Linked DNA regions of Homo sapiens: region 1 is linked to region 2. Evidence: fine-mapped expression QTL. Tissue or cell type: whole blood. Region 2 holds a variant in brackets; the other region holds the start of a gene. All regions are shown on one strand. Distances are from middle to middle.

Region 1 (5,289 bases), 110 kb after region 2:
TATTCTGTTTAAAGTAAGAACAGATAGGTGCCTGAATATTGCAATCCAATGTTAATGAAAAAAGTACACACCCTTCCAGCTCCTCCTTAGAGCTGGTGGAAAATACAATCAAACTAACGAACATAAATTTTCAAATGACTGAAAGCCATGATAAATGGGATATAGTCTTACTCTAAAATATGGGGTTTCTCATCATTAATTATATTCTTAATTATCAAATCTAATATTTTGCTTCTGCCTTCTTGCATTTCTAAGACAGTGCCACTTTATTTTCAAAACATTTACTGTTTCTAACTTGAGAATGTTTCCGTAACTTTCTATCGGGGGCTGTGCAGAGTTCTCTTTATGTATGTGAAGCACATTATCGTTGAATAAATATCATTATTCTCCCAATCACACTTCCCCAGCTCAGTAGTTTTATGGGCCCCAGTGAACCACAAAAGCCTAAATTGTCTAGAATCAATTTCATAGTTTTTCCTCAAAACCCCCCAAAAAGTGATCAGCAACAGCTGTAAGAACATCAAGGACTCATTGCATGAGAAACACGAGCAAAACACATCAGTAAGAGACAAATGCCTTTTTTCAAGGAATGCAAAGAGGTTCTAAGTAGTAGTCAAAGACAAGACAAGTTGACTGCCTGGAACTTGTACTTCAGCATGGAAGCACTGAGCACCAACACGGAATTCCGAAGGAGAGTAATTAAGGGAGGCCAAGACAGCAACCATGGGTCAGAGTTTGACACTAAGTCACAGTGTGGGTGGCAAGGGGAGAAAGATATGACTGAAGTTGCTCTGAAGTGTATTTAGCAAAAGCAAGTGAAGCTGTATCCCAAATTGGCAATCATTTTACATATTTCAGCCAACTTTGAGCCCTCTAGTCTCCGTTTCCATACCCTGTTCAACAAAATCACACTGCACAATTTCCCTACAAAGCTAATGCTTATGACCTGGTGAATATCCTACTATATGAATCATTCTTATGTGATGATAGATAGATTAAATAGATGGATAGATACATATATATGTAGATCACTGCTCAGGGTCCTATTATACAAACTTTTCTGCACCTCCACTTCTTCCTTAATAATAAACTTTGAAACTCCCTGGATGACATTGATCTAATTCTATTCTTCTTGATGACTTCATCATATTATTGATATGCCACAATTTATCTAACCATTCTCTTACCAAAGGATATTCTATTTGCTTTATCTTTTCGTTCATTTGCTACCACAAATTATTCATGCAACAAGTCTTAATACACTCTATGCGCCTGTTCAACTCCAGGAATAGAGCAATGAACAAAACAAAGTTCCCACTTTCCTAAAGAATCCATTCTAGTGGAGGGGACAGGCACTAATTTAATATGTAACATAATGTTATATTTTTATGAAGCTAAACAAGGGGATACAAAGTTACAGGAAATTTCTTATTACTTTAAATGGGGTAGCCAGGGAAGAGCTCTCTGAGGAGGTATTTGATCAGAAACCTGAATGACTTGAGGGAGTAAGCCATGAGGCCTGTTAAGAGAGGAGCAATCCAGTCAGAAGGAACAGCAAGCAGCAAGCACCCGAGTTCTGAGGGAGAGATACTCAGCGAGACTGGGAACACTTGTGAATGCCACTACAGTAAATGCAGAGTGACAGAAGGGCAGGAAAAGGGACCAGACATATATCTTGCCCAAGGTCCAGGTGATGCAGTGCCTGGTAGGCTATAGAAGGAACTTCAGCAAATGCCACAATAAATATCCACATATATTGCTAGATTCATCTCCAAAAAGGCTATCAGAACTCACATTTCTATGAGCAGTCTACAAACATAGGCAGCCAGGTTCCAAAGTCTATGCAGCAGCTGTTTGTCAGCCGTTTCAGTTTGCTTTTAAAAAACATTTATCTATAACTTGAAAAAGTATTAGGAGAGTGAAATATCTGTATATAAAAGCTACACAAATGCAAATATTCTTGTTAGTTTATCACATCTGTCAAACCCAGAAAGCTCTGTATATTAGACCCATCAGTGGGAAACCAGACAGTTTCACAGTGAAAAAAAATCTCCATCTGAGAAAAATAAAATAAAATTCTGGTATAATCTCTGGTCCAGTTACCTCTGGAGAAATAGTTGACAGGACTAGAACTGGGGACTACAAATTGGCAGTGGCCACACACAGCTATAGGACAGAATAAGTTGCTAAGAGGCCTAACATGTATCATCATGAGATAGAATTTTCTAGGTTGGAAGGAAATGGTCTTTTTAATATGCCAAAATGTTGACTTTCAACTATAATCATAATAAAGCAATTTATATCAATAAAAATACATAAAATGGGTAAAAATAAAAGCTAAAGGAACTTGTTTTAGTTATTATTGTCCAATCTTTTCTTAAAACCTCTGGTTTCATCTTCTTCCACTGACATCTTACATTCTGTGAAGGAGGAAGTAGGGGGGATGGAAACGGCTTTAAAGAAGCACAAAAGGCCTGAAGGTCAATAGGGAGGCAAATACTCAAAGAATGAGAACCGCAGATATCTAATAAAGTCTATGTTGCCTTTTCATGCAAAAGGCATAAGGAATGCTTAATCATCTAATATTTACAATGTAGGAAAAAGCTATTTCACGTTGAAATTTGTAGCATTTTTGGGTGATTATGAAACCCTCATTTAAAATAGCCATGTATCCTCTATTTAGCAAACCAAGACTACAAGAAATCTTAGACATGATATTAATACCCCAAAGTTTAAAACTCCAGATGTGAAGAAAAGCCAGAGAATGCCTGCTGTGTAATAAGGCCTATATCTCTTTGGAATCATGGATTTAATTAAGTTTCAATTTGCATCTTGGGCAAAAAGATAGACTGTTAGAATGAAACAAAAAGAAAGAGGGAAAAAGCCTTCTAAAAAACAAAGTGTCAATAAAATTTTAGTTATATTCTCTAGCCATCATTTGGCTTTTAAAATTCTGATAACATTCCCTCAAAAAACAAAGCATTTCCTTTTGTCTAGACAACATAACCTGCTTCTGTCTCAGATAGGCCACTTGGGAACCCAGGATCTGACTCATTTCCCTCACACCATATATGATTCCATATAAAACAGGGCTATATGTCCCTTCCACAGCCCAAATAGGGATCCCCAAAAGGCGGTGCTTCCTATCATTCTTGGGCCAATGTTTTCACCAAGTTCTGTTTGAAAATGTATTTGTTCCTGTTTTCTTTGCACTTACCTTGTGAGGTCTCATCTCCATGACATCTGACAGTGGCTTTGGGTGTTGCCTAAAGAGAAAGCAGCAAGCAACAGTTACAGAGGTGGTTTCCTGTGGAGCAGGCAACTTAACACAGCTAAGTTCAGGTCATTCTCTGAATACTAAAACTGAGAAGTCAACGATAGTGTAATATCAGATAGCTAAATGTTTTCACTATACCCACACATGTAGTAAAGAATTTAGGCTGCTGAATTTTCTTTAACTACAGGGTTCTGCTTTTCAAAAAAAATGTTTTCAACTTACAAAGACTTTTATAACAGACTGCCTTTTTGAGAAAGGAAAGCCTTCTTTCTTTATATTATCCAGGAACCATTATACGCATCCCATAGAATGTATTGCTGATACTTCTTAGAAGTATCTTCAGAAAAGGGTCTTATCTTATATTTATTATCTTATATTTATTTATATATTTATTATATTATATTATATGTTATATATAAATATATTATATATTTATATAATTATATATTATATATTTATATATAAATAAATATATTATATTATATATTATATAAATATTTATATTTATATATAATGTATATAATATTATTATATATTATATATATTTATTATATATATAATTAATATATAATAAAATTATATATTATATATATTTATTATATATATAATTAATATATAATAAAATTATATATTATATATAAATATATTATATATTTATATAATTATAAATTATATATTATATATAAATAAATATATTATATTATATATTATATATAAATAAATATTTGTATTTATTTATATATAATATATAAAATATTTATATATTATAAATAAATATAAGATATAAAATACCAGTAAAATGTGTTCCTAGGAGTTGAATATATGCATGCATATGGCATTTGCTTGTTTGTTCATTGATTCATTTATTCATTCAATGAATTTACTGAACATATATTGAGTTTCTCTTTTTTGTGCCCTGAGGATATAACCACAAATAAGACATAATCTCTGTCCTCAATAAGTTCATAAAATCTTATGATTTTATGGGAAATCACAAGATGGGAAAAGAAAACTGGACAAATAATTATGAATATTATGTGAGAATTACAACAATAGGAATTTATATAGAATACATTGGGCCTCAAGTGGGGAAACGGGCATTCTAATTAGCGTAAAAGAGCTGATCAAAGGAGTTGATTCTTGAACTGTGGTAAAGAATATTGTGTGGTCATTTTTCATGCAAGGAAGTGCATTCCCAGCTGGGAGTCTAGCATATTCAAAGATCCAGAGGCACAAAACAATATAGCACTTTCTGGTAACTGTAGCTAGTTCTATATTGATAGAGTGTAGAGGACTCTAAAAAGGAATAAGACTGAGATATTAGCAAAATGATTTTTAACATCAGGAGGCATTTCTTTCAGAGAACAAAAATAAATAACAAGTATATCCATGAAATACTTCTTGAGAAATATTTTGGTTAAAGATTGAACACTTTGAAGAACAATTAAGTATGAAGCACTTCAATACTTTGGCTCATGTCTGAAAAATACATAGATATTGCATATTTTCACAATGGCAAATATTCAGACTAAGTGCTAACACATGAAGCTGAACTAGATTATAAAATACTAATCTCTTTTGAGGAAACTATATTTTTATGTATCAGAATGGCTTAGAGCCAATAGAAAATTACAGCCTGTATAATAGTGTCTGGCACAGAGTAGGCTCTCAACAAATAGGTGTTGATGGAAATACCACATTGAGGCAGCTTTTGGCAAACAAAGAAATGCTTTGGGCACCAACCCAGGCTCTCCAGCTTAAAACTGTTACTGCTCCTTCTGCAATTAGAGACTTTTTCCCTTGTGATTCATAGAGTTGCATTCATTATATCTCTTTTTGGTCTCTGCTCCTAACTAACCTTCCTCCTAGCTCACACCTACCTAGAGATACCTGAAAATGTTTTCTCTAGGTATGTCTGGGCAGGTTCGAAGGATATAGCTATTATATCATTGGCCTTGGACATACAAACCAAAGAGGCACAGTTGCAGTTGCCAATATTGGTGGCAATTCAA
Region 2 (5,289 bases):
GACACAATCTGGGAATCAGTTATACTTCAATAGCATTTCTTATTGTGATTCGGAGATCTAAACAGTAAAAGATTTATCTACTAGAAAATGTCCCACGTCATGGAGTTAATTTTTTTTTGAAGTTTTGACTGATAAGCTGAATTATTATACATACCACCTTCTGATTCTGCTGCACCCAGTGGAGCTGAAAATATTTACAAGGGTGTCCTTATTTTTTTCTCCAACATACCTATAAGCGGCATTAAATTATTCTACACTTTATAAGCAAGGACGGTTTGGTATTTGAGGTTCACACTCCTCTAGCATCACAAAACCATTTGGCACCAGCCTCAGGAAAGTAAAAGAATCTTAAATTAGGCTCATAAAATTGACCTGGTTCTAAAGAAAGATAGCCACTTGATAGTAAAGGTACTACGAGCACAGGGCTCTGCTTATGAACAGTAACACTTATTGACTGCTTCTGATGTGCAGGCACTATGCTAATCACAAGTATTAACTCATTTGGTCATTAAACCCATTTTATAGATGAGGAAACTGAGGCACAGAGAGTTTAGTAGCTTCCTTGAGATTTACAGCAAGCAAGCAGTAAGCTAAAAGCCAGGAAGCCTGTCTCCAGAACCTTGCTTTTACCCTGGTCTTCTTCTCTACATATCCCACCTTTCTATTTCACTCTTCAAATGTTGCCTTACTGAGTGATCAAGCTCTTCCTCAATTCCCATTTGACCTTTGCCTCCTCACCAAGAGCCAAAAACAGCTGAAAATGTTTACTTTTATTAAAATAAGTTTACTTAGGGTAGCAAGGACTCTAAAACTCAAGGCTAGCAATTAAGCAAGTGGAGATTCCACACAAAATGTTTATTTGTCCCAAGAGAGTCATTACAGCTCTCTTAGCTTAAGAAAGTGATACAGTATATGCTTTTGAGGGTTCCACATAACCCACATGTCAGCTGCCCCAGTTGGTATTCACCAGAGAATTCCCTGCATCTAAGGCCTTGTGCTTATGTTGTAAAATGTACTAATGGATATTAACATTATGATAATGCCAAAAATCAAATTCCAAAGGCTTATCCCAGATACATGGCTTTCATCAGCTACACAAACCTCAGGGGAGATTTTATCAACTGCTGATCAAAGGAAGCAGCAGGAGCTGATACAAGCACAAGACAGGGCATGTGGAGTGTCCTCCACTCAAGTACACCCCAGAGCAGAGCGTCTCCAGGAGTTGAGACAGCACATCAGCAACTCAATTGTAGTATTCAAATGAATGGAGTTCTCTTTAAGGGCAAGTCTCTGAATAGAAAGTTTAAAATCTGATCCTGATTTAACATGACTATGCCCTCACCTGGATGTATATTGCTGTAAGAGATACCTTACCCATATGAGGGTCATGTCAACTTGCTTCCAAACATAAATGAAGTGAAGCACAAAATCATGTGACTCCTCAAGTGTACTTAGCTCTGCACAGATAAAACTGCTTTATTTGGAATCACGGAAAAAGAAGAGGGAAGGGCATCTGCAGACCATGCAGCTTATTAAACCAATTTGTTTCCTGAGTCAAGTACTTGAGGTACTCTCAGTTCTAATTAATGTCTCTTGCAAATGCAGCCTCATAACTAACGTTCATTCTTCTAATCGTAGCCATATGTTCCTTCCATCGTTTTAATGATATAAATGGAAATTATTGGTGTTTATCATTGAATATTTCTATTTAAAAAAACATTTTTTCAGGCTGATGCTTTATGCTAAGATCAGTGGGTGAGAAAATCCCTCTCTGGAAATATTTTCTCACTTCCTGTAGTCCATAAGTGAGGCCTTATTTATGGTTTTTAAATATCGCATTAAGAATTTTGCCTCCATTAGATCCATGCTACTAAAATGGCAGAACTCTTCACATAAAAAACAGAGATAAACTGAAAAGGGGATAGCTGAGTCAAATATACAGCCTGTAGGTTGAAGTATAATCATTACATCTCGCTTAAGGCAAGAGAGGTTGATAGTTTACAATAAGCTTCAAGAAAATCACTTGCTTATTTCCAGAAGCCAATAGCTTAAATCAAATTCCTTTACCTTCTCTAAATATGCCACATATGTTTTCATTTTAAGAAGTACTTTTTATGTATGTGACTGTAGTAAAAAGATATGTACAGATATACAAGATTTCAGAGCTGGAAGAGACCCTAATGATCACCCAGTCAGGTGGTCCATAACCCTCACTGTGTACCCTAAACAACTGATGAGCTTGCAGACTGGTTCTTCACCAGAGAAATTATAATTCAATTGCTCTGAGGTGGACCCGGTGGAGCCAGATATACTGTTTTGCAAAAGTACTCCTGGTTATTCTAATATGTGGTCAAGCTTGAGAAGCACAAATCTTGTTTATCCATCTCTTTTGGAGCCAATGATATTAAATGATTTATTCAATGTCCATAGACAGTTATGTTTGACAGGGGGGAGACTATGAGCTCAGGCTCA[A/T]AACCCTCACACCTGTGCATTTTCTTTTATCGTTTACTAATACTTCTTTAATCCATGCTTTTAAAAATAAAGTTAATTTAGCAATAGAAATATCTTTTAAAACAAGACAAAATAAAACCTAGAACTATTCTTCCATTCCCTTTTCAAGGGTCTGTCCCCATCTTTTATTTTTTGTCATTGTAATCTCTCCAAAGTGCCAGCTGTGTGTTAGAAGGTATCACTGTATAACTCCAGGATTAAAGTAAAAATATTAGTAAACCATTCCAGAATCGCCAACAGTGCAAAACACAAAAGAAAGACTCCTATTTACCCTTGTATTAAAATATAACAATAGCAGCCAAATCATCATTCCGTGGCAGGAACTGTACTCAAGTGTTGGATCCAGACCATCTCACTGCATCTCAGCAAAAACTCTGTGAGGTCATATATTACTGTCATCTCAGTTATACAGATAAGAAAGCCAAGGCACCAAAATTTATTTCCCCAAATAAATTCCCCCAATTTAGGTAACTTTGCCTGGCTAGGAACTGGTAGTCAGTTTAGTCTTTTTTTTTTTTAAGTTCAATCTTAAAATCACAAGATGAAACTGTCCTTCAAAAGCAGCATTTTACCTTTACTCATAATAAACTAATATTTACAAAGCATTTTTAAAAGAACATTATACTCCTTTCTCATCTGATCTCATTTAAGTATTACAAGATTTATTTACCATAATCATTTTGTTAAAGAGAAACTAAGGCTTAGGGAATACTCAATGTCCTCCCAGGTAGTAAGTGGCTAAACCCAAATCAGAGTTTTTGTTATGATTCTATGTGTAGTACTGCACTCCAGCCACCATACAGCTTTAAATCTGAAGATTGTTTTCCTGGCTCTGATGAGTATTTCATATGGTCAGTTCTGCTAGAAAAACAGTATAAAACTTACTTCAAACAGCCAAAAAACAAATTCCTTGCTGTTCAGATTAAACTGTTGATTGTGCTGAAATTCACGGGTACACTAAGAAACAAAATAAACTGTGTCAAATCTCCCCAAAGATTTTGTTGTGCATTCTTTTATTTTTATTCACATAATCTGTGTTTACTGAGCTGCAGTAAAGGATGCATGGGCTATTTTTATTCGGAGAAAGGCTATAACACCAGCCAAGCAGAAGGACCCATCCATGACCAGAATGCAATGGCCTTCATTATCTTCCAACTCACTCCTAAATGACTCACTGAGAGCTGCCAGATGGTGTTTTCTCTCACCCCTTGCCTTGCATTTATTTAATTATTTTAACATAGTTTTTGTTCTGCTGCCATGATGCCTAATAGGCAGATATATTTGGGAGTTAGTTTCTTCTTCTAATATTGACCAGTGCATTTAGAAAATTTCTCAGACTCTTTAATAATAACACTTATTGGGTACGTACAATATACTAGATGCTAAGCCAATGGATTTGTATATATTCCTCATTTAATCATCCAACAACTCACAAATGAGGAGGCTGAAGTTTAGGGAGGTTAATACATGTACCCTGGGCTAAACAGCTGGTCAAAGACGTAGAGTCAGATAATTGGAACTAAGCCCCCAATCTTAATGTAAGACTTATGTGGTAGAAGTTATAAGCACTAACACTTTGGGGAAATAAGGAAACATAATAAAATGATAAAGAAACCCAAAAAGTTAATATTCATCTATGTGGAAACCTATCAGGTAGGTGACTAAGTCATCAAGAAAATGAAAAGATGTGTGGTAGACCTGGAGATGTGCTGCCCTCACCCCCCGTGCAGCTGCAGGGAGAGCTGTCAGGAGGCAGCCTCTAACATGGGACTCCTTTGGGATCTGCTTTAGTGCAGGGAGCCACCTTGTTTGCAGTCTCACCCTGTCTGAGGCAGCCTGCACAAAAGCCCAGCCATCCTGACTCATCAGCAATATTCTCTCTAGAGACACCTACTGGGTTGGCCAAGGCTTTGCCAGGTCTGCTTCACAGTGTGAGATCTTTCTCCATCCTATCTTGCTTTCAACCCTACTATTCCAGATATTCATTCCTTTTAAACCTTCTTCATCCAAAGGTCTGAGGAACCAGAGCTGTAACAATACTTCAAAGTTTTTGACAAAGAATAAAAATTATTTTATTGCTAGTTTAGGAATTTTTGAGTCTCAAGAATCTTTACATGTAAACATACCAAATAATAATTTTTATGGTAGTCTCAAGACATAGAGTTCCCCCAAATTGGGGTAGAGGCTTGGGGTGTGAAGGTAGTAAGAGGCAGGTACCTACTTAACTCTTCTTCAGACTGAATTGATCAGGTAATTCAGAACCACATCTGGTTTTGACAACATGCTCATGATATATCCCCCAAATGGAAGCCTATATAAACTACCTTATCCTCCTGGGTCTATAGTGTTCCTAGTTGCTGATTCCATATTATTATTCTAGGCAGTCTGATGTATGTACCTATGACATCAGTTCCATATCAGAATATTTCTACAAAATTACTTCCAAGACAGTTTTCAAATATAAAGAGATTATCCTCAATATGCTTCAACAACAATCAAACCCTATGCTATGTATGGTATCAATATTCTAAATAGAAAGCATTGACTGACACATGATATAGAATTATCAGAATCAGTCTCTATTCTCAGTCACTTTTCCACCCTCAGGTAGCCTCCTTTAACATCATGCCTGTTCTTAGTACCATTTTACTCTCCATTACTGTCAACTTTGTTTTATTAAGGAGGTCATGGTAATTAAGCCATTTCAAGAAAATTCTCATTTTTAAGGAAAGGGAAACTTGGAACCCAAGAAAACTTTCTAGACTCCAGACAACAAAG

The links. PIP is the estimated chance that this variant, and not a neighbour inherited with it, causes the effect.
Region 1: LINC01934 starts here. The variant in region 2 is fine-mapped to the expression of LINC01934 in whole blood (INTERVAL, PIP above 0.99).

The regions. Positions count from the first base shown.
Region 1 is chr2:181,121,909-181,127,197 of GRCh38, reverse strand. It overlaps LINC01934 (long intergenic non-protein coding RNA 1934), which reads right to left and starts at 3,361. Exons shown (of 5, transcript NR_130784.1): 1 at 3,218-3,361. RefSeq lists an enhancer at 2,995-3,094.
Region 2 is chr2:181,230,451-181,235,739 of GRCh38, reverse strand. All of the region lies in intron 2 of LINC01934 (long intergenic non-protein coding RNA 1934), which reads right to left. Among named protein-coding and RNA genes, the nearest start is that of MIR4437, 73 kb to the left of the region's middle. The variant A/T (reference allele first, on the strand shown) is at 2,473.